2 separate regions of the Homo sapiens genome follow, and region 1 is linked to region 2. Evidence: fine-mapped expression QTL. A gene starts in region 2. The other region holds a variant in brackets. All regions are shown on one strand. Distances are from middle to middle. Region 1 overlaps ALG12 (ALG12 alpha-1,6-mannosyltransferase). Region 2 holds the start of ZBED4 (zinc finger BED-type containing 4).

Region 1 (11,474 bases), 58 kb after region 2:
TGAACGGGCACAGAGCTGGCCAGCCTCAGCCCTGGGTTCTTCCGCAGCACCCACAGGGCCAGCAGTGATGGACTCTCCTGGGCCTGAGCCCCGGGTCCTTCCCCAGCACCCACAGGGCCCGGCAGTGATGGACTCTCCTGGCTCCCTGAGGCTTGCAACACTGAGTGGCAGCCGCGCTCAGACCACCCCACCCTCAGCCCAGGCAGTGCCCTCCCCAGGCCCTGCCAGGCCCCCAGCTCCACCTCCATCACCTGCTGCCTGCAGTCCCTCCCCGCAGGAAGCCCCCTGCCCTCCACAGGACCTTGAGCCTGGGCCACGCTGGGCCCTCTGCACCCAGCCATAGGCACCTCCCTCACCATCCCCCTCTTCCAGCCAGATGACCCGCCTTGACAAACGCCCTCAAGCCCGAGGCCCTGTCAGGATGGCCACGAACGCCCTTCCTCTACCTGACCTGTCGCCCTCAGAGCCTCCCAGGCCTGGCTGCCCCTGCCCTCTGCCGCTGCTACCTATGTGAGTGTCACTCTCCCATGACAGAGACTGGGACCGCTGGTGCATCACCATATGTGGACCAGTCACCAAATTAACCCAAGACAGAGACCACCTGAGCAAAGCCCTCTGTCAGCACAATGCCAGGCCGGTCCCATCCCATGCAGCCCTCAGGGAGGAGAGAGGACTGGGGTCACCCTCCTTTGACATAAGCGCCTAGTTCAACACACCCTGTGTTTATCTTAAAAAACAGCCCTGGTGGCTCACACCTGCAATCCCAGCACTTCCAGAGGAGGAGGCAGGAGGATGGCTTAACCCCCTAGGAGTTGAGGGGTGCAGTAAGCCCCACTCCAGCTGGGCGACAGAGCAAGACCCTGTTTCAAAAATTAAACACACACATACATCCCCCCAACAGTAAATCAGTGAACCTGTTTCCAATGAAACTATAAAAATGCATGTCACAAAAAGAGCACTCACAGGTAGGAGCAGCCTCTGGCAGCCGTGATGTTGAGCATGGGGAAGGCATAGATGATGAAGCGTAGCTCCTTGTGTGGCAGGAGGGAGTAGAGTGCCATGAAGCCCAGTGCCAGCACCGTCGGCGCGTGCGTCCTTCTGTCTACCAAGCCCAGGGGGATGAAGAGCAGGCTGCAGCCCAGGCCGCGGGGCAGGGCTGAGTAGAAGTACCACAGCAGCGGGGAGGTCTGCGGGCTGGGTTAAGGAGGCCACGCACCTGTCCACGCATGAGCCCGTGGGCTAGGTGGCAGGGTCAAGGTGGAGAAGACGCTTGAAGACAGTTGTGCTGAGAGATGCAGCCTGGACCACGGCTCGTGTGCACAGACACCACTCAGGCCTCAGGCCCCTCCTAAAAGACAGAGCCCAGGCCACAGCTCGGGTGCACACATACCACTTGGGCGTCGGGCCCCCTCCAGGCAGGACCAAGGCAGCAAGGGCCACAGGACGTTCGGTCTCTGTACCCTTTTCTTCACTGTTAAAAACAGATGGTCGGCCGGGCGCAGTGGCTCATGTCTGTAATCCCAGCACTTCGGGAGGCCAAGGTGGGTAGATCACGAGGTAAAGAGATCGAGACCATCCTGGCCAACATGGTGAAACCCTGTCTCTACTACAAATACAAAAATTAGCTGGGCATGGTGGCATGTGCCTGTAATCCCAGCTACTCAGGAGGCTGAGGCAGGAGAATCACTTGAACCAGGGAGTTGGAGGTTGCAGTGAGCCGAGATCATGCCACTGTACTCCAACCTGGCGACAGAGTGAGACTCTGTCTCAAAAAAAAAAAAAAAAAAAACCAAAAAACAAAAAACAGACGGTCACGGGTGACACACATGTTGGGATTCGTTATGCTGTTCCATCTATGCGTGTATGTTTGACATAATTCCTAAGAAAGCACTTTTTAAATGCAGATTGTCCGGGCCGGGCGTGGTGGCTCACACCTGTAATCCCAGCACTTTGGGAGGCCAAGGCAGGTGGATCACCTGAGTTCAAGAGTTCAAGATCAGCCTGACCAACATGGTAAAACCCCACCTCTACTAAAAATACAAAAATTAGCCAGGTGTGGTGGCGTGCGCCTATAGTCCCAGCTACTCATGAGGCTGAGGCAGGAGAATTGCTTGAACCAGGGAGGTGGAGGTTGCAGTGAGCCAAGATCATACCACTGTACTCCAGCCTGGGCGACAGAGCGAGACTCAGTCTCAAAAAAAAAAAAAAAAAAGCAGATTGTCCGAGGAGCAGAGGAGAGGCTGGGGTAATCTGGGGCAGGGCTGTTTCCAGCCCTCAGGCTGTTTCCTGGCTGAGAGAGGGCAGCCAGGACCTCACCTCCCATGGCCAGCATTTCCCAGGAGCAAGTGGGAGGGAGGGGCTCCATCCTGACCCTGCAGCCACGCTGCAGAGAAGGGAGAAGCAGCTGCTTCCACTGCCCATGGAGGCCCAGGAGATGTGGCTGCAGGTCCCACCCATCGCCCTCCTGCACGGACACTGAAGGATACCCCCCAGTTGGAGCTTTTGTTCAGGACAGTGTTGTACCAAAGCACCTTTCCTTCCGGCCAAGTGAGCTGCCGCCAAAAATAAGAGTCCACAGCAACCGTCAGTCCTGACAAAATAAAATAGAGTTTCTTAGTCGCAAACACAGCCATCAGTAAACATCCCGCCACAATGCAGCCCCCATCACTACAGAAACTACAAGCTGCTTTCATATAAAAGAGGTTGGGCAGGGTGGGAAGATTGCTGGAGCCTAGGAGTTCAAGGTTGCAGTGGGCCATGATCATGCCACTGCACTCCATCCTGGGTGACAGAGCAAGACTATCTCTAAAACAAAAAAAGAAAAAAGACACCAACTGTGTCGAGGACACCACTGCCCAGAACCACCGCCTGGCGCAGGGACAAGCCGCCCTCCACTCTTGTGGCCTCCCCCAGCCCAAGGACAAGGGACAGACCAGTGAACAGGGGCTCCTAAGGCGCACGGTGGGTCCCCCTGGAGATCCCCGGGCAGGGGGCTTAGGATTGAAATGTTTTCAACACTGCTAAATTTAGGGTCATTTTATTTCATGGGGATGAAAACCTCCCAAATTTCTCTTGACCTTTGTAAAACAAGGCAAAACAAAATCCAGTTAGAAGCATCCCACAGTGACTGACTTACCTAAACAGAGGATCCCTGCCGGGACGGCGTGGCGAAGGGCTCTGACTACAGAAACCTTTCGGTTGCCCAAGGCCAGCAGCAGCAGGAGGCCCAGGAACAGGCACAGCTCCACCCTGAACACGATGATGGCGAAGGCTGACAGCCAGATGAAGCGGGCCCACTCGTGCCGCAGCCAGGCCGCGAGGGCCAGCAGGACTGCAAGACAGTGCGGGAGGGTGCTCGTCAAGACACAGGGCCCACCCGGCCCAGAAAACACCCGGGGAAGTGAAGGGTGATTCCTTTTCCTATTATAAAAGCCACACAAATATCCCAGAAAAGAAACTGCTCAGAGCCGCTCCCCGCACCTATGCTGTTGGCCAGGAAGTGTGTCCCAACCCAGCATGGAAAACAAAGAGCCTGGTTTCAGGTCACAGACCATCCTGAGGAACCCAGTGGGGAATGGCCATTACGGGGGAGGCACTGCCATCAGCTGCACAGCCCGACTCAGGGGAGCCCCTGCCCGGCACCATGGGTGTGCAGGCCCGGCCGGCAGCTACGTACCTACAGGCAGGGCCAGCACATTGGGCAGTGTCCGCGTGCAGTAGAACATCAGGTGGAACTGCATGGCCGTCACCCAGCAGAACATGGTGGCCACCATGGCCCCGAAGTGCCGTCTCACTTCCTTTTGTAACGTCCAGAGTCCAAAAATCACGCCGAGTCCAAGCACTCCTCTAACTAAACAAAGACAGTGACAGCACCTGAGCCTGCAGTGGAGGAGTATCCAGTGGGGCCCCCTACGTGGGTCCTTCTACACAGATCTTTCTATATGGAGTTTTCTATGCTGCTGCAATGCCAGCTGACGGCTACGTCAGGCAAAGCAGCCTTGAGGGCATCGTCTCCATGTTGAAAACAGACGACTGGACCCAGGCCCCCTGCGCTCCTGTCGGGAACTGAGGACCCTTGCGGGGGCTGCTCTCTGAAGCATGAGGGAGGACACACAACTTGGGGGTGCCACGAGCTGAGCCCTACACTAAACCAGAGACCCCACCGGGCTGTGGCATCTCCAGGGGAAATGTTTGCAAAGGCCGGGCTCAGACCTTGCTCTAACCAGCAGCCATGAGGAGGTGGGATGTGGCAGGAACACAGGCTCCCAGGCAGGAAGGGGGTCAGGACCCCTCTCCCCATTTGACAGCAGGAGCCACCTCTGGGCTGGTGGTCTGATGAGGAGGTGGTGAGGGGGCAGGTGTGCCCAGGACAGTACCCAGCCGACCACACATCCTCACCGTGGACCGGCCTGTCAGCCGCTGGCAAGAGACTGAAAACAGGAAGAAAAATGAACTTCTGGGTGGCTCTTGCTACCTTTCCAGAAGGCCAGAGGAACTTCGAAGCCATGTGAGAAGCAACTGGGTCCAGGCAGCTGTGGGGGCCAATGGGCAGAGATACCCAGGCACTGCCAAGGGGGCCACGGATGTCTGAGGGCTGGACCTGCTGTTCCCAGAATACCCCATGTGCATACCAGGCATTTTCTTTTCACTGATTGCTGGATTCGGACTGCAAATGTCTTTTTTTTTTTCTTTTTAAGGACAGAGTTTCCCTCTGTTGCTCAGGCTGGAGTGCAGTGGCATAATCTCGGCTCACTGCAACCTCTGCCTTCCGGGTTCAAGCAATTCTCCTACCTCAGCCTCCGGAGTAGCTGGGATTATAGGCGCATGCCAACACGCCCGGCTAATTTTTGTATTTTTAGTAGAGACAAGGTTTCCCATGTTGGCCAGGATGGTCTCAAACTCCTGACCTCAGGTGATCCCCCCGCCTCGGCCTCCCAAAGTGCTGGGATTACAGGCGTGAGCCACCATGCCCAGTCTGAATGTCTTAATAGGACATTTTTCACTGATACTCACAAGTGGGTCTGGCTCCAGCTGCTGTATTTTTGGTGCTGGAATTTCCCCCGGGCTTTTAAACAATTCACAGACCCCAGCAAAGCCCCGCTTCCCCTTTTCCCCATCAGGTCCATCCCCTGCGTCTCTTCTCTTGGTTTTCCATCTTCCCAAATGCCCAACAATCTCAACCCCGTGCCCAACAAGGGTAGCCTCGGCCTCACGATCAGCCTCGGCTGCGGGATCACCCTCGGCCCCGGGATCAGCCTCGGCCACGGGATCACCCTCGGCCCCGGGATCAGCCTCGGCCGCGGGATCAGCCTGGCCCCGGGATCACCCTCGGCCCCGGGATCACCCTCGGCCCCGGGATCAGCCTGGCCCCAGGATCACCCTCGGCCCCGGGATCACCCTCGGCCCCAGGATGACATGCTCTTCATCCAGAGAGGAAGGATTTTGGCCTGTGGCAGGGGCTGGGGGGGGCACTAGCAATTCCAGGTCACCTTAGTGGGATCAGGAAGGACACAGGGTGGGCTCCCGTTCACCAGCTGAAGCTGCAGCCCTCCAAGGTTCTGTCCAGCTGGAGTCCACCCAGCTCTGCCCAACCTCCCAACCTCTTGCTGCCAACCCTGGAATAAGCAGAAGCTTCCAAGGGAATGTGGACTCAGCCCCGGAATTGCCTGTGGACTTCCTTTCCCTGGCTCGTGGCCCCCCAACTCCTCCCCATTTGGGGCTTCCTGATGCCTCTACAGGACATGCACGGCTTGTCCAGCTGTCCCCGTGCCATGGTGGGTTTCCGTTCCCAATCTGCCCCTTCAAGAAGCAGAACTGCTCCTTCCCCAGGAACGTGCTACTTCTTAAAGCTCTCCACACAAGCTGGACTGACTCGCTGGAAGCATGTCTGGGTATTAAAAGCAATAAAAGCGTACTGAAATAAAAAAGTGGTGATTGCTGACTTCAAAAACTCAGGTTGTGTGACTGGGCGTGGTGGCTCATGCCTGTAATCCCAGCACTGTGGGAGGCTGAGGTGGGACAATCACTTGAGCCCAGGAGTTCAAAGCTGTAGTGAGCTATGATTGCACCACTGCACTTCAGCCTAGGTGACACAGCAAGGCCCTGTCTCAAAAAAGAAAAAAAAATCGGTTTTTAGAACAATATGTACAAAACGTTCTAATTTTTTTTTTTTAAAGTCCTCATGTGGGCACAGAGAAAGACCCAGGATTTGCACACAGGCCCTGCAGTGGTGGCCTCTGGGAATGTGAGGTTTCTGTTTGTAACATTCCCCAAGGCAAATGGTGCTGCTTCTGCAGGAATAAAGGCTGTTGACCCCATGGGGGCTTGCCAGGTGAGGCGGGAGCAGCAGGCTCAGGTGGCGAGAGCTGCCTCACAGGCAGTCGGCATTTCTCTTGTACCTGCCGTCACCCCTAATTTCACAGTCAAGAGTGTGGAGGCACAGAGGGGCTGACTCAGACGTCTTAGGCCTGACCTGAGCACCTGCTCTGAGCCGCCATGCCACGGTGATCGAGGGCAGGCAAGACTAACAGACAG[C/T]GTTCCTGGGCAGGAGGGACCGCGGCCTCGCTGAGGTCACCCGATGACACCACAGTCCCTCACTCCCTCCTCCTTTGTTGAAGACCCCCTTACCTATTAGCTGAGAGTAAAACTTGGACATTTCTAACAGCGAAAGCACGTAAACCGCGGGGCTGGAGAACACTGCGATCACCACTGGCCCGAGGAACGTCCTGGGGACGACTCCGGGGAACTCAAGATGGTCGTACTGCGAGGAGAAGGGCAGGTCAGTGCACCGGGGCCCTGCCAGCTGGTAACATGAGGTTTTCCCCAAAGACAGCAGGGGCCCCTCACCTGCTCCAGGTCTTGCCAGTGGTAGAGCAGGTCATGTGTGGCCTGCAGGTTGAAGCTCTCCTCCACTTTGGTGTAGGGACAGATGACCAGGTGGACAGTGGCTACGGCCACCAGCAGCCCCAGCAGCAGGGGCCGCCTGCCTGATGACCCCTTTCCAGCCATTCCAGGCTTTCAGCTTCACGTACCTTCACAGGCCAACAGTGCGAGACACCAGCCGTTAGCACTGCCACTCCACGCATGCTGGAAAAGTGGAAACAGATTCCTGAGGTTCGAAAGTCACGCTTGCGCTCACGTTTGGGAGATCCGGGTAAAGGGTTAGCAGAATTCTCTGAACTACTGTCTTAGTCGCACTACTACAAATCTGAAAACGCATCAAGATGGAAAGTTTGGAGAAAAAATCACACTTGAGAATCTTTCATACTGTAACCAGTGATCTGACACTTCCAGCTCTGTGAATGTTTTTCTAGGCAGAAGGATCTCAGTCGCAGAACCCTGAGTCTGACCAGGCCTGGGCCACGAGGGCAATGGAGGGTGGTAAATGGCCCCTGCCCCCCAGTCTAAATCTGGCAGGAGAGTCAGCAAAACCCAGGCTTGGCCCCGAGGGAACCGGCTGAAGAAGACGGAATGGGAGGCTGAGGGGTGCCAGTTAGCTGGGTGGGAGGCACCAAGCTGGAGAGTGGTGGACAGGGGCCCCGGGAGGGCAAGAAACTGAACGTAGTACAGCTGCTGGGACACAGGGCTCGAGTGGCCAGCAAAGCCCCCGCTCCCAGGAATGGTGGGATGGGGCTGTGGACGCCTGCGCCGAACCCCACCCTGGGGGCTGGGAGAAGCCATGGCCGGCTTTCCCAAAGGTGGCACCACACTGGCCATGAGCCTGCATGTGAGCCTGGGAAGACTGGCAATGGGTCCCCCAAACACTAACAGGACAACCTCAGGGGCCCGTGGCACGGAGCTTCCTGAGAGGCCAGCAACATGTCCAGCTGCTACACGTGAGAGACCAAGGGAGGGGAGGGGGCAAACTCTTCACGTTTCTGGCTTCTTTTAAAACAGATTTGATTTTATTCAATCCAAACCAGAAGGGCCAGAAGCAAAGGGAGAGAGAACCCCAGGGCTTACCATTTATTAAAACTACTTTAAAAATTTTTTTTAAGAGACAGCGTCTTACTCTGTCACCCAAGCTGGAGTGCAGTGGAGTGATCATGGCTCACTGCAGCCTCAAACTCCTGGGATCCTTTTGCCTGAGCCTCCTGAGTAGCCGCAGCTACAGGTGTGGGTCACCACACTCAGCTAAGTTTTCTTATTTTTTGTAAAGACAGGGTCTTGCTTTGTAGCCCAGGCTGGTATGGAATTCCTGGCTTCAAGCCATCTTCCTACCTTGGCCTCCTGAAGTATTGGGATTACAGGCGTGGGCCACCATGCCCAGCCAAAACTATCTTTTGATCAAACGGAGAGTTAAGAAGTATACAAAGATGGCAACCAAAGGAAAATCTGTAGATTAGAAGGAAGGAGAACCCTATTTGATATGGTGGGCAGGGGGTGGAGAGAAAGAAAAAAGAAAGCTTTAATAATTTTACGACTGAAATGGTATGCAGTTCTCTCCTTTGCCAAATATAAAAACCTGGGGCCGGGCGCGGTCGCTCATTCCCGTAATCCCAGCTCTTTGGGAGGCTGAGGGCCAGGTGCGGTGGCTCATTCCCATAATCCCAGCTCTTCGGGAGGCTGAGGTGGGTGGATCACGAGGTCAGCAGATCAAGACCATCCTGGCCAACATGGTGAAACCCTGTCTCTACTAAAAATACAAAAATTAGCTGGGCATGGTAGTGCACGCCTATAATCCCAGCTACTCGGGAGGCTAAGGCAGGAGAATCGCTTGAGCCCAGGAGGCAGAGGCCGCAGTGAGCCGAGATCACACCACTGAAATCCAGTCTGGGCCACAGAGCGTGACTCCGTCTCAGAAATAAATAAATAGATAATAAAAAAATTTAAAAAAATAAACTTGGTATCAAACAAAGAGAAAGGTCGAAGGACTAGGTTAGGAATCACTAACTGAGGGAGGGCCCACTCAGCTGTCTCCCACTTGCTAAGACACAAGCTTTTTGACGGTGGGGGGTTTTTGATGCTGGATGATTTTTCCCACCAGCGCAGCCTCAGCACCAAGGACAGAGGCCAGCCGCTGTGGCCTGAAGGCTGCCTCGCTGCCACCTCCCCTGCTGGACTCATCCTGCGGGCAGGGCTTGCTTGGTGGACTCACTGCTGAATCAGCAAAGCCTGCCGCACAGTAGGCACTCAACAAGGCTGCCGAAGAAGAAATCGGTAAAAACTCCTACATGGGGTTCTCATCACACCAGCTCACGTGCTTATTAAAAATTCCAGCAGCCGGGAGCGGTGGCTCATTCCTGTAATCCCAGCACTTTGGGAGGCTGAGGCGGGTGGATCACAAGGTCAAGAGATCGAGACCAGCTTGGCCAACATGGTAAAACCCCGTCTCTACTAAAAATACAAAAAAATTAGCTGGAGTGGTGGCGAGTAGTCCCAGCTACTTGGGAGGCTGAGGCAGGAGAATGGTGTGAACCCAGGAGGTGGAGCTTGCAGTGAGCCGAGATCGCGCCACTGCACTCCTGCCTGGGCGACAGAGCAAGACTCCATCTCAAAAATAAATAAATAAATTAATTAAATTAAATAAAAATATGTTCCAACGGCCGGGCGTGGTGGCTCATGCCTGTAATCCCAGCACTTTGGGAGGCTGAGGTGGGTGGATCACAAGGTCAGGAATTCAAGACCAGCCTAGCCAGCATGGTGAAACCTCATCTCTACTAAAAATACAAAAATTAGCTGGGCATGGTGGTGTGCGCCTGTAATCCCAACTACTTGGAAGGCAGAGGAGGAGAATTGCTTGAACTCGGGAGGCAGAGGTTGCAGCAAGCCAAGATCGCACCACTGTACTCCAGCCTGGACAACAGAGCCAGACTCCGTCTCAAAAAAAAAGAAATAGGAAGCAAGCCGGATGTGTTGGCTCACGCCTGTAATTCCAGCTACTCAGGAGTTCAAGACCAACCTGGGCTACAGAGCCAGACCCCATCTCCACAAAAATAATCCCAGCTACTCAGGAAGCTGACATGGGGGGTACTGCTTGAGGCCCGGAGTTCAAGACCAACTTGGGCTACATCATGAGACCCCATTTCTACAAAAATAAAAAATAAAACGGAACGGGGAGCATCTACGTGCCAAGATGTGGGAGGTGCACACAGCAAGTGCTGCTTGGCAGTCCCCCACAACCCCACTCCACACCTCTCCACCCAGGGGAGTTCCCCAGCAAGGAAGAGTTCAGCTGTGGGGTGAAAACATTACGTGCTGACTCTGACACTCCTGGCGGGCCCCCAGCACCTCCTCGGACCCAACAAGGTGTGCCTTCTGCTGATGACCAGCACAGCTCACTTTCGAGGGCATGAGAAGACCAAGGGTGAGTCTGGATTCTCTGCCAGGAGCACGGGAAGACCAAGTCAACACCAGCAAGCACGAAAACCACGACGAACCCCCCACCAGGCGAGGGTGAACGGACACTGTCCTGCACTAGCCCACTCTGCTGGGCAGCTGGGCAGCAGCTGTGGCTAATCTAAGTGACGGGTGCTTCGAGAGCACCCACAGGTTAAAACGGGCCCAGGCCATGACACTTTAAAATGGTGGTTTACAGAACAATGGCATCTCAGATTAGGGAATGACCTGCAAAGACCCTCTTGTCCCCATCAATCCAGATTTTAAGGCCTCTACCGAAATTGATCAAATCAGGCTAAGCATGGTGGCTCACGCCTGTAACCCTAGCACTTTGGGAGGCTGAGGCAGGCAGATCGCTTGAGGTCAGGACTTCGAGACCAGCCTGGCCAACATGGTGAAACCCCGTCTCTACTAAAAATACAAAAATTAGCCGGACCTGGTGGTGGGTGCCTGTAATCCCAACTTAGGAGGCTGAGGCAGCAGAATCACAGGAACCTGGAAGGCGGAGCTTGCAGTGAGCTGAGATCGCGCCACTGCACTCCAGCCTGGGCGACAAAGTGAGACTCCGTCTCAAAAAAACAGAAAAGAAACTGGTCAAATCAGATGTTACTTTTTTTTTTTTTAAATGTGCAGTGTTATCTGCACTCCTTCCTTCCACAGGCAGGAGTTCTCTGAAATCCAGACGCTGCACGTTTTATTTCCCCTAATTTAAACCAGGGGTTCCTGAACATGAGCGAGTGTTCATCACCTCAAGCGCCTGTAGAAATGCAGATCCCCAGCCCCCAGAGACCCTAAGTGGACCCCAGATCCCCAGCCCCCAGGTGAAAAACCCATCCCCCAGGTGGGAGGTCCGGCCCCAGGTGAGGAGCCCGGCCCCAGGTGAGAGGTCCAGCCCCAGGTGAGAGGTCGGGCCCCCGGATGAGAGGTCCGGCCCCCGGGTGAGAGGTCTGGCCCCCAGGTGACAGGTCCAGCCCCAGGTGAGGAGCCCGGCCCCAAGTGAGGGGTGCAGCCCCAGGTAAGGAGCACGGGGCTGTGACGCGTGGACATGCGCGGTGAGGCCTCAGGAATCCAGCGCCAGCGCCAGCTCGGGTCGCGCCCTCGCCCGCCTCCTCCCTGGTCTCGCCGCGCGCCCGCCT
Region 2 (12,295 bases):
CCTTGTGACCCTTTCCCTCCCCGGCCACAGATGCAGCTCTCGGCCAGAAGCTCCACTTCCCCGAGGCCCTCGCCCCTGCCAGGCAGCTCCCCTGCGGCGTCGCCCACCCAGAGTTCTCCCCCTGGACGCTCCCTCAGTGCCCCCCTAGCAGCCCCGGCGGTCTTCTCCCCACCTTCAGCCCCCTCCCCGGTCCCCCAGGAAGGGGCCAGACTCCAGCTCAGCACCCAGCGCTTCCTGGTCTTTCCCTTCTGGGCGCCCTCCCGACAGTTCCCTTTAGGGAAGTTGGCCCGCTGCGCGCTCCCACCCCCGGCCGCCGCCTGGACAGAGGCGCGCAATCCGGAGGGCGCAGGCTCCGGCCCGGAGAAGGGGGTGCCGCCGGCGTTCCGATTTCTCAGGAATGGGGAAACAGAGGCACGGTGGATCCGGCGGCGGGGCTGGGTCTGGGGCTGGACGTTGACCTAGGACCCCGCCCCTGCCCGCCCTGCGCCGCGCCCCTCCCGGGCCGGCCTTGACCGAGCAGCTCCACGCGGGCCCGGGGCTCGTCCACCCGACAGGAGCGGGGGGCTGCAGCCCACGAGCCCACGAGCCCGCAGCGACGCACCCGGAGTGTAACCTCGCAGAGTCACGGAGACACTTTCCCGGTGTGGGCGCCTCGCCGCGCTTCCTCCCCGCGGGCTGCGGCCACCCCAGGGCAGGACAGAGCCGAGATGCCCGGGTGGGAGCGATGCCCGCGTGGGGGCGATGCAACGGGGGAGATGCCTGGGGGGAGGGTGGTAAGGTGAAACCTGGTGGAGAACAATGGGGGTGGGTGGGCGATTCCTGGGGAGGTGCCCGGTGTGGGGTGTTTCTGGTTCGCCCGGGGACAGTGCGCGTCCCCTCGCCCGCGGCGCCCGCCCTGCCCGTCCCACCGAGGTCCCCCGGGAGCGTCTGGGCCCACGGCTTCGGGGGGTTTCTCCGAGACCTGGGCGCTGTTCTGGGGGAGCAGGGGCCCGGGCCACCAAGGTTCGTGCGGACCGTGGGGTGTCCCACGCCCAGGCCGGGGGATCCCAGAGCCCCGCTTCCCTCAAGGGCGCCGCGCCCCGGACTGCAGGTGGAGACGGGGACCGGCCCCGCGGGGTCGCCGACAGGCGCGGGGCGGGACAGGGTGGGAGGCGGCGGGGCGCAGAGTCCTCCGGTCGCCGGCGCGATCCGGGCACCTTCCTGGAGGCGGCGGGAGCGCGGTCGCGGCGCCTCCGGGGTGGGGTCCAGGTTGGAGGCTCCGGGGCGCACCGCCCTAGCCCCACCCCGGCCGGGTCCCCGCGCTGCCTCTGCGGAGAGGGAGGAAGGAAGGAAGGCAGGGAGGGAGGGGACGGCCGGCAGGCGTGGGGTCCGCGGCGTCAGGGCTCCTTCCTCCCGTCCGCTCCATCCTGCAACCCGTAGCCCGGGCGGGGTCTCGCTGCCCCCTCCCCGAACACAGCCGCCTTTTCCTCCCTCCCCAACCCCGAGCGCCTCCCTTCCCGAATGCGGGAGTCCATAGTGCACGGGAAGCCTCTTCCCCTCCCCACCGAGGCTGCCCGACGCCCCTTCCACCCTCCGACCCCCCGCAACCATCCCTCAAATGCCCCGGCGGCCAGCAGGGCTGGGGTGGGCGCAGGAGAACCAGGGGTCCTGCCCGCATGCAGGGGTTTGGGGTCGGTGTGGCCGAATGAACGCGCGGGTTCAGACGAGCCTGTGATGCCCCCGCTTTCCATCTCCTCGCGACCTGGCCCCAGAAGACAGTCTGAGAGGCCGGTGGCCGCGGATCCTGGACGCGCTTCCCTCCTGCCTGTGGTTTCCCTTTATTCCGGCAGCGCTGTGAGTCCACCCTTCACTCATAGGAGCCACATCCAGAACCTTCTCCTGGGGCCACAGCGTGGGCTTCCGATACCTGTGTGACCCCAGCTCTGCCCCTTCAGGGCTGCGTGGTGAAGCCCTCAGGACCCTCCGCGTGGGTTGGGCGGGTGACGTGGATGAGGGACAACGTGGTGAGGTCCCCGTCGTGGCGAAGAGTGACCAGTAGGTGCCCAGGGCCCAACCCTCCTCTGCACCCGAGAGAAACCATCTCCTCTGCAGCAGCCCCCACCTGGACGCTCTGGAGTCCTCCCCACCTCCCTCCCCAGTGGGGCGCACAGCATTCTTGCTACCCTGAAAGGCAGACGGGAGGCACAGGGTGGCAGAGGGGGGCCAGGTCTGAGATTCCAGATGGAAGGGACCATGGGGCTCCACCCCACCACCACTGTAGGCAGGGGACTGGCAGGTGTACACCCTTACTCCCGCGGGGCCCAGGGACACAGCCACCCTCCTTTGAGGCCCTGGCCCTCAGGACCCTGCCACAGCGAGGTCTGTGCCTCCCCAGTGACCAGTGGTCACCGGGCTCGGGGTCACCCAGCTGCTTCCACATGTGACACCATCAGCTCCATGCCCTACCCCCAAGCTGGGCTCATAATCTTAATTCACAGCTAAGAAACTCAACCAAAGTCACATCACATGAGGGCGAACCCTCCAGGGCCACAGTGCTCCAAGCACGGAGGGCTCCCTGCCTTCGGAAGATGCTGTGGGTCCACCTGCAGCCTCAGTGGACAGAGGACCAGGGCACCAGCTGCTCTTCTGCCTCAGTGCGGAGCATCCCTGACTCGCACTGCCCTGTACAGGTGGGGCTCACAGTCTGTGCATGGAACTCAGATAAAACACCTGGCCCTGGGATGTCACACTTTGGTTCAGATGAATGAAAAAATAAGATACTGACACTCTGGATGACTAAGAATCGACTTATGTCTTTCCCGTGATGGGAAACTGTCCCATGAAAAGCCACTTACATGTTTGGATGGTCCTGTAGAAAATATTTTTTCTTCTCCTTATCGCAGTCTCTATGATGCATAAGAATGCAATTTAAGACAAACAGCAAATAAATACCATCTGTGTATGTACCAAGCACTTGCAGACTGAAAAAAAAAAAAGAAAAAGAAAAAATAAGATATTGTATCTTGGGCACACAGAAAGTGCCCATCAAAGATTAAATGAATGGACTGCAGCTGGTGGAGGCATGGGGTACTGGCTTGCCGAAACAGTCCCAGTTGATGCTGGGTCCTGGCCCCATGATGTCTAGTGTGCCCTTCCATGCTCCAGGGTGCCCCATTTGGGCACTTAGTCCAAGGGCCACCCGACATACAAAACAGTATCTTCCTGTGAGGGGCCAGAGAATAGGCCGCACCTGGCTGCCCTGCACAATTTGGAAGGCACTAGGAGGGACCTGTCAACCTGCACTCACTCACTCACCGGCAGGCCCCTTTGGGAAGAGCTGTTGCTCTTTGGCCCCAGGAATCTTCTATTTCTGCACATGAGTGCCAGGCAATTGTGGGGCCCCATTAACCTACTCCACAAAGCGTAGGGGGCCTTGCTCTCGGCACTGGGCATGCTCCCTCAGCACATACAACAAAGAAGTCCCCCCTCCCACTGATTCTAGCAGGAGGCTGTTGGGGGGCAGTCATGACACAGGCATATACAGTGTGTCAGATGTGTCAGAGCCCGGAGAGGGGATGAGGAGAGCGCAGTGTTACTTCCTAGAGCATGGCCCCGGAGAGCCTCCCACTATGCTGACATATGGGCAGCCGTCTGGGAGCTTGACACTGGCAGAGGGGAAGAGCAGTCCAGGCAGACAAGAAGTCAGTGCGAAGACCCCAAAGCAAGCATCAAGGAGGCTGGGGGCTGCTGCAGATCTGATGAGGGGATGGCAGGGGCAGAGCAGGCCTGAGAACACTGGCCTCCACTCTGAATGAAACAGGGATCCCCAGGCCGGGCACGGTGGCTCATGCCTGTAATCCCAGCACTTTGGGAGGCCAAGGCGGGCGGATCACAAGATCAGGAGATCGAGACCATCCTGGTCAACATGGTGAAACCCCATCTCTACTAAAAATACATAAATTAGCTGGGCGTGGTGGCGAGCGCCTGTAGTCTCAGCTACTCTGGAGGCTGAGGCAGGAGAATCGCTTGAACCCGGGAGGCGGAGGTTGCAGTGAGCCGAGATCACGCTACCGCACTCCAGCCTGGGGACAGAGCGAGACTCTGTCTCAGAAAGAAAAAAAAAAGAAAAAGAAAGAAACAGGGAGCCCTTTTTGGGTGTCAGTGCCTGGTCTCAACTCCATAGCTATGGTGGAAGGTAAAGCAGTTTACCTTTTAACTACATGAACAAGCATGGTGGTGTTCCAGTTGAACTCCTTAGGAAACCGACATTTTAATTTAATTTTTTTTTGGAGACGGAGTCTTGCTCTGTCACCCAGACTGGAGTGCAGTGGCGCGATCTCGGCTCACTGCAACCTCTGCCTCCCGGGTTCAAGCGATTCTTCTGCCTCAGTCTCCCGAGTATCTGGGATTACAGGAGCCCACCACCACGTCTGGCTAATTTTTTATTTTTTTTCAGTAGAGACGGGGTTTCTCCATGTTGGCCAGGCTGGTCTCGAACTCCTGATCTCAGGTGATCCACCCGCCTCGGCCTCCCAAAGTGCAGGGATTACAGGCGTGAGCCACCGTGCCCGGCCGATATTTGAATGTCATATACTTTTCATATATGCTAAAATACTGTTTTAATTCTCCCCCAACCTCTTAAAAACGAGAAAAGCATTCTTAGCTCAGGCACCATAGAAAACCCGGCTGCAGGCTGGACGTGGACTTTGGAACAGTCGGCGTGCGGGTGAAGGGGCACAGCCGCGGGGCAGGGGCGGGCTCCGGGCAGAGGCGGCCGTGATAACTCCACGCTCCCGCTCCAGCCGGTGACCGCCACGCGGGCTCCTCTCACTCTCACACTCAGGCCGAGAAAATGCCGAAAGCCGTGTCACCAACGGGGGACCTCGGGGCCACATTCAGCATGCAGAGTTTATTTGGTCTGCTCAAACATTTGTGTTAGGAAATAACACATTAAAAGTGCACATTTCCTTCAGACCCTGAGAAGCGGGCGAGTCCCGTGCGCTCCGCACCGCCAGCCCCGGCCCCGCGCTCGCCCAGAGGGCCGCCCTCCTCCCGCCGACCCGGCTTGGGGCTTAGGCGTTAATCCCGTCCCCCGGGGGGGCCGCGCGGGGAGCCCCGATCGCCTTAGGGTCAACGGCTTAGGTCCCAGCCCACGAGGCCTGACCGCACCGCACTGAGCGGCCTCTGCGCCAGGTAAGGGGGTTCGGGGCGGGACCGGGAACCGCGCTGCTAGCCGTCCCGGAAACCCGCGGTGGGCCGTTGGGTGCGCGCCGAGCCGCTGCCAACTGCCAAGCCACGGGACGAAACCAAGGCGCCCGCGCCCCGCCCAGCCAGAGCGCCTAAGCCCTTCCCGTCGCCCGCCAGCGCCGGAGCGCCCACTGCGCCTGCGTAGTTTGCCCTCCTGGACCCGGGGGCGGAGCCGAAGCGCGCATTGCGCCTGCGTCTTCCGCCCGACCCCGCCCCAGCGGCCGGGCCTCCGGCGCTCCGTCCTCCCGCCCGGCCAGGGACGAGGCGGGGCGGGTACGCGGACACTGCGCCTGCGAGAGTAGGCCCCGCCCCCGATCGGCCCCGCCCCCGGCCAGCCCCGCCCCGCGCCGCGCGGGGCCCTGGGAGGGGCGCAGCGTCCGGCGGCGTCGCGGGCGGCGGGCGGCGGGGCCGCGGGAGGGGCGCGGGGGCAGACAAAGCCGCGGTAATGAATGGAGCGTCCGCCCGCGCCGCCGTCGTCCGCAGCCGGCCGGGAGCCGCCCCAGAGGCCGGGCCGAGGTGAGTGCGCGGGCGCCGCCGCCCCGCCGCCTGCCGCGAGCCCCGTCCCCCGCGGACCGCGCCGGGGCCGGGCCGGGCCGCGCCATTGTCTGCGCCGCGCCGGGGCCAGGGCCGGGGCCAGGCGGGCGGGGGCGCGGTTCCGTGGCCTCGGGGTCCCCGCCCGGCGCCGCCCCGGACCCGCCCCCGCGCGGACCCCGGCCCTGACAGCTGGCGCGGGGGCGGCGCCGACTGAGCGGCCGAGTGCCGGGGGTCGGCGCCCGGCCTGGCCCACGTGCCCGCGCCGTTGCTTCCGGGCGGACGGGACGGGGCTCGGGCTCGGGGCGCCGCCCGGGTCCGCCGGGAGCGCGCTGTCCCGGCCACGTCGAGTTAACCCCGCGAGCCCCGTCCCTGGGACTTCTCTGGACGTGTCATTCCCGTCCCACCTCCAGGAAGGGCCACCTGGGCCCTGCTTCATGTCTCAGCCCAGACGGGTCCTTGCGACGCGCCCCGAGGCAGGTTATTGTACGTGGTTCTGGGGATGACCGTTCACATTTAATGAATAAAAATGTAACTTGCCTTGCGAACCATAATTTCAAATGTTTTTCGACTGCAGTGGTTTTCCTACACCCAAATGAGCTCGCAGTCAGTTTTGTTTCTTCTTTTGTCCCGTTGTGTGGCCCACACCGCCTTCGTTGCTAAGAGAATCGCAGCCCCTCGGGCTCCCTTCTGCGCCTTTCTATTCCGGGTGGCCCTGGTAGACCCGGGCACCTCTGTGGAAACACGTCCCGGCCAAGCTGAGCCGTCAGAAGCTTCTGTTGGTGTTCTCGTGTTGGTCGAAAGGGAAGTTATTTATTTTGAAGTTAACTCTGATCAGATTACGTTTTTAGAAATCCATTCAGACCTCATAGTGAGGCCAGTTTGGTAAAGCAAGGGCATCCTGCGACTTTTTACACAGAAATGTTTTTTATTTTTTCTGTGTATGTCATTCATAGTGACAAAATTGAGGCTAGGAAGGATTTGGTTGGGATTTTTTTTTAAGTGCTATGAATAAGCCACATTTTGATTATGAATTAATTGCAATTACTAAACAAAGTTACTTTGCAAGAGGAAAGTTTACAGGAGTTTGATTCCATACTCCGAGGGTTTCCAATGGGACGTCCGTACAAGGCTGCACACTTCCCGTAGTCCTTAAACGGATTATATCTGCTTGTCATGATTGGCTTTTTTTCAAGAAAAGATCTAGCACAAGTTAAGAGAGATTCTGTGAATCTTGAAAAAGCTTCAGAGGCCCGGTCTTTGAGGTGAGGACACAGTTAATCTATATGGAAAGAAACCTAAGACTTTTAGTCCACTTGACAGGTGGTTACAGGGTCTCCCCCAACACACACTCTTGTCCAGGTAATTCCTGAATAAGGTGGTTGATGTTGTTGGATGTAAAACCTCTGCTCTTTAAGGTTACCTCCTCCCCAACCCCCTCCACACACACAGTGAGTAACTCAGCTGTGCAAAGTATGTCCATAACACCTTGCAGAAAGACTAAAAAAATTACTAGGGGAGCGGACTGACTTCTGTGTGTGTGCAGAGGAGCTGAGAAGCAGCTTCTTTAGCGAAAGGTGTGTGTGTGTGTGTGTCTCAGATCCTTGGTGAGGAGCCCTGGGGAGTGGACTCCTGGCGGCATGAGGAGCAGGAAGTGACCGTGGTCAGTGCCGTCCTTCACTTTGTTTTGCGTTTTTTTCTTTGCCTGGCTTTAGCTTCTGGTCTCATTCTCTTTGGTGTGGTGGTTGTCTTTTGAGAGGAGGGAGCAGGTGAAACAGCTGGGCGTGGCTTTGCCCAGCCCTGGGGTAGAGGCCAAGCTGGCCCTTCCTTACCAACGTTGTTTCCTTCACTGTTTAAATCTCAGGACCTGAGAATGTACCTATAGGAATTGCTCTTATTTACATTTGGCTGTGTAAGAAAGTCACTGTGCCTTTAGCCCGTGACACCCCTTAGCGGTTTGGTTTTGGCTTTCTCTTTTAGTGTCTGTGGATTCCAGCAGCTCTCTGGCTTCAGCCCTTTCAAGGATTCGGGCCTCTCTGCATCCCAGCCTTCCAGGCCCTTCTGCTCCCCACTTTTTAGCACCTAGGTTTTTCTACATTCTGCAGTACCTCAGATCCCTTCCTTGGTCATCACTGGATATGTGCTTTTGTAGTTCAAATTCTGGGAGGCATTGTTAGGAATAAAATAAGCTCTTTGCCATTTCTGAGGCGGAGGGGAGCAGGAGAGACAGAGGTGCTTGCCTCTCTGCCTGCTGGGGCCATGGTGGTTTTCAAAGAAGGCCCTGGCCGTAGGGAACATGGTGGTGGTGAGGAGCAGCGTAAACCAGAGAAAAAGGCTCAGTAAGTGCTTCAAGGAGAAACACCGGCAGGTGAGAGCAGGGGTAATCCCAGTTTCTCAGGAAAGCATGCTCCGGAGACCTCATAGGGAGAGGAGGTTGCCCTGAAGGGTCTGGGGGCGATGGCGGAAGCCCCAGGAGAGCATTGTCCATGAGGTGCAGAGGCAGCCTCACGGCATCCCAGTGCGTACCTCCTGCCCGGCCCAAGCGCCTGCTGCTGAAGCCGCCTCCCAGCTCCCCCGGGTTGTTTCGGAATTCAGGGGACATGCAGCCTAAATGACCCACACTGGAATCCCGGCCGGCTTCCCATCCCTCGTTCTAGGTGAAGGCCGCGCTGGAATCCCGGCCGGCTTCCCATCCCTCGTTCTAGGTGAAGGCCGCGCTGGAATCCCGGCCGGCTTCCCACCTCTCGTTCTAGGTGAAGGCCGCGCTGGAATCCCGGCCGGCTTCCCACCCCTCGTTCTAGGTGAAGGCCGCGCTGGAATCCCGGCCGGCTTCCCACCCCTCGTTCTAGGTGAAGGCCGCGCTGCAATGCCAGCCAGCTTCCCACCTCATTCTAGGTGAAGGCTTTTCAGCAGCCATGGCCCATGTCTTTCCCAGCAAACTCTGTGTGCAATAGAAACAGCTGATGCTGGCCTGGCCCTGGGGATGGGGTTGTGACTGCTGCAGCCCCCTACCTGATTAGGGTCGGGAGGACCTGGCCCCCCGCCCTTCCTGCCTTGCCACCTCCACAGACAAACCCTGAGGGGCTGACTTCCTCCAAAGCTGCTCCTCATCGAGGCCCACCTGGTGGTCTCTGCTCCACCTGTTTGCTGCAGGGAGCAGGGTCGGGAGCATGTGCATTTCGGAGAGCTCTGGTTGCTCCGTCATAGAAGCCATGCTCCACATCCTGTAAGTGAGAGACTCCCCAGCAGCGTTCAGCCATAGCTGCGATGTCAGGCCTGTCACTAGTGGGACTGCCCGGACCCCCAAGGTATGGGTACACGGCGAGGGTGCTGGTGTTAAATACAGGGGACCCACAAAACCACCTAGCAGAACAATCCACATGACCCTGTCGTGTGACCCAGAACATTTCAGGGATGGAACACGGACCAGCTGACCTTAGCGTGGTCGCTGGCTTGCTCTGGAAGGTGCCGTTTCCAAGACGCCCTTACCTGGGTTCCTGAGCACGTCTGACAGAGCAGCTCTGACTCCGGGTTTCTGGAGTCAGACCCCTTGCCACTGTCTTTGACCTTTAGCTTTGGGTTCCCCTTCTCAGTTTGTTTGTTTGTTTGTTTATTCTCACTCTGTCACTCAGGCTGGAGTGCAGTGTTACAATCTCGGCTCACTGCAACCTCTGTCTCCTGGATTCAAGTGATTCTGCTGCCTTAGCTCCCTGAGTAGCTGGAATTACAGGCACCCGCCACCGCACTCAGCTAATTTTTGTTTGTTTTTTGAGATGGAATCTTGCTCTGTCACCCAGGCTGGAGTGCAATGGCACAATCTCAGCTCCCTGCAACCTCTACCTCCCAGGTTAAAGCGATTCTCCTTCCTCAGTCTCCTGAGTAGCTGGGATTACAATAGGCGTGCGCCACCGTGCCCGGTTAATTTTTTTTTGCATTTTTAGTAGAGACGGGGTTTCACCATGTTGGCCAGGGTGGTCTCGATCTCCTGATCTCGTGATCCGTCCACCTTGGCCTCCCAAAGTGCCAGGACAGGACTACAGGCGTGAGCCACCGCGCCCAGCCAGTTTTTGTATTTTTAGTAGAGATGGGCTGTCACCATGTTGGCCAGGCTGGTCTCAAACTCCTGACCTTAGGTGATCCACCCGCCTTTGCCTCCCAAAGGGCTGGGATTACAGGCGTGAGCCACCGTGCCCGGCCCCCTTCTCAGTTTAGCCCAGACCTGGATGTTGGCTTCTGTGTGGGCAGCTGTTGTGAGCCATGGCTCCTGCTGGAATTTGTGGCAGTTGATGCTGCTGTGCACCCCCAGAATAGGTGAAGGCTACTCAGGTGTAGCCCCGATGGTAGTTTATGTCCTCAGGAGGAGAAACTGCCATGTCCCCGTCTGAACCAGGCCCGGAGTCTTGATGCATAGCTCTTTGCCTCCCTGGGTATACTCGACAGCTTGTTGAGAGTGCGTGTGCTCTGAGTTGAACACGAATATATTTCTGTTGTTTGAAGGTTATTATAAAGTTTCTAACTTACAGAGTTGGCACTCCTACGTCCCTTGCCCCCAGCTGGAGCTACCGTGACTGCCACCAGCTGCCACCTGGCACGTGCTGAACTGTCTTGAAGGAAACTGCAGATATCTGGACACTTCTCTAAGTGTTCTTTCTCCTAAGAAAGGGAAAGGGACATTCTACTGTCTAATGACAGTCGCGTCATCGATGGCGTCTACAAAACGTGACTGTGTCCCTTGGCGTCATCCAGTAGCCAGTCCACGGTCTGAAGTTGTCCCCCAACGTCTTTACTAGCTGTTTTTCCCAACCAGAATCGAGTACAGGGCCACGTGTCACAGTGGCTGTGAGGTCTCTTTGCGTTCCGGTGCCCCCGGAGCACCCCCTGTGATCTGGCGGTGGGAGGCCTGATTTGATACAGGGGCACGTTTGGGGCGCAGGTGATGCTGTGTGCTGCACTGTGGGCGGAGGCTGTCCCATGAGGACGGATGCGACTTTGCTCACTGGCCCTTTAAATTGTGTCCCTGCCCCCCACAGTTGGCGAGTTAGATGAGGGGGTGTCTCGGGGTGTGTGGACGCTCTGCTCCCATCAGACCTCCACATGCTGTTTGCTGGTCTCCCCAGAACCTGTGGGCAGTGGCACCTTGGCTTTAGTATGCTGTTGTTCTTTTTTTCTTTATTTTTGTCTGTGTTTCCCTTCTTTGTTACGTCTTAGAAAATGCTGAGTTCTTTCTCTTTATTACCAATTCTTAGCGGAAGATGGTCTAGTAGACACCTCTGTGGGGGCAAATTTTTACTTTTCCTTTGTCTTCCTTGAGTATCAAGGTGGACTAGTGGATTTTATTTATTCCATGTCATAATCTAGTAAAGCCTTTTGTTTTGTGATGCTCAAATAGCTATAAATGTGACTAGTTGGGAGCCCCTTCCAAGCTGGCCCCTGTGTCCTTTTCACTCCATACGTGGTCCTGGGAATGCATCCTTTCTGGCCCAGTGTCCCAGGCTCACGGTGATGTCTTTCCCAGGCCTGCGTCAGCTGCTTCTCCACAGCGCCTGGGTTCCTTTTAGTGCAGAAAGGCATCTGGACACCGAGGTCCAGGCCATAGACGTAGTCATTGTGCTTGTCTGTTATTGCTTAATGCCCTGTTCGCGGACACAGCTAGAAAATATGTATTTAAAACATTGTGAGTTCAGTCAATTTGAATTATAGTTAAAATTAATTTTAATTTTCATTAAAATTATGTAGTTTTGCGGGGTGTGGTGGCTCACACCTGTAATCTCAGCACTTTGGGAGGCTGAGGTGGGGAGACCACTTGAGCTCAGGAGTTCCAGACCAGTCTAGGCAGCGTGGCAGAACCCCATCTTTACAAAAACATACAGAAATCAGCTGGGCATGATGGTATGTGCCTGGAGTTCCAGCTACTCAGGAGGCTGAGATGGGAGGATCACTTGAGCTCAGGAGTTCCAGACCAGTCTAGGCAGCATGGCAGAACCCCATCTTTACAAAAACATACAGAAATCAGCCGGGCATGATGGTATGCGCCTGGAGTTCCAGCTACTCAGGAGGCTGAGGTGGGAGGATCACTTGAGCTCAGGAGTTCCAGACCAGTCTAGGCAGCATGGCAGAACCCCATCTTTACAAAAACATACAGAAATCAGCCGGGCATGATGGTATGTGCCTGGAGTTCCAGCTACTCAGGAGGCTGAGGTGGGAGGATCACTTGAGCCTGGGAGGTTGAGGCTGTGGTAAGCTGCAATGACGTCACTGCACTGCTGCCTGGGCGACAGAGTGAGACCCTGTATCAAAAACAAAACAAAACAAAACAAAAAATACATATATATAGTTTTACTTAATTTCTTTGATTCTTAAATTATATGTTATTCTGAAAAATCTTAATAATATCATTGGCCTTGTTTTGTGCTAAAATGTGCATACAGTAGGTTGTAGAATTACAATACCACTCCTGTAAGAAAACTGCTTAGTTAACTTTGCAGGTTTTTGTTGAGTTCTTTTTGTCCTTAGTTATCTTCCACTTTGGATGAATAAA

The links. PIP is the estimated chance that this variant, and not a neighbour inherited with it, causes the effect.
Region 1: its variant is fine-mapped to the expression of ZBED4 in whole blood (TOPMed, PIP 0.98).

The regions. Positions count from the first base shown.
Region 1 is chr22:49,906,758-49,918,231 of GRCh38, forward strand. ALG12 (ALG12 alpha-1,6-mannosyltransferase) reads right to left here. Exons shown (of 10, transcript NM_024105.4): 2 at 6,847-7,086; 3 at 6,628-6,760; 4 at 3,677-3,850; 5 at 3,137-3,331; 6 at 2,487-2,590; 7 at 964-1,187. The coding sequence starts at 7,008. Among named protein-coding and RNA genes, the nearest start is that of ALG12, 5.9 kb to the right of the region's middle. RefSeq lists a silencer at 11,271-11,470. The variant C/T (reference allele first, on the strand shown) is at 6,535.
Region 2 is chr22:49,848,248-49,860,542 of GRCh38, forward strand. ZBED4 (zinc finger BED-type containing 4) reads left to right here and starts at 5,597. Exons shown (of 2, transcript NM_014838.3): 1 at 5,597-5,742. LOC124905156 (basic proline-rich protein-like) reads right to left here and starts at 1,405. Exons shown (of 3, transcript XM_047441701.1): 1 at 1,351-1,405; 2 at 173-1,307. The coding sequence starts at 1,405. The coding sequence ends at 274. It overlaps LOC105373091 (sterile alpha motif domain-containing protein 1-like), which reads left to right and starts at 1,343. Exons shown (of 2, transcript XM_011530661.3): 1 at 1,343-1,833; 2 at 1,935-2,423. The coding sequence starts at 1,501. The coding sequence ends at 2,423. It overlaps LOC105377205 (a long non-coding RNA gene), which reads right to left and starts at 5,265. Exons shown (of 5, transcript NR_188597.1): 1 at 4,189-5,265; 2 at 2,835-2,960. It also overlaps LOC124905147 and a transcript of ALG12 not described here. RefSeq lists silencers at 4,945-5,034, 5,055-5,784, 5,955-6,244 and enhancers at 8,430-9,090, 10,693-11,230.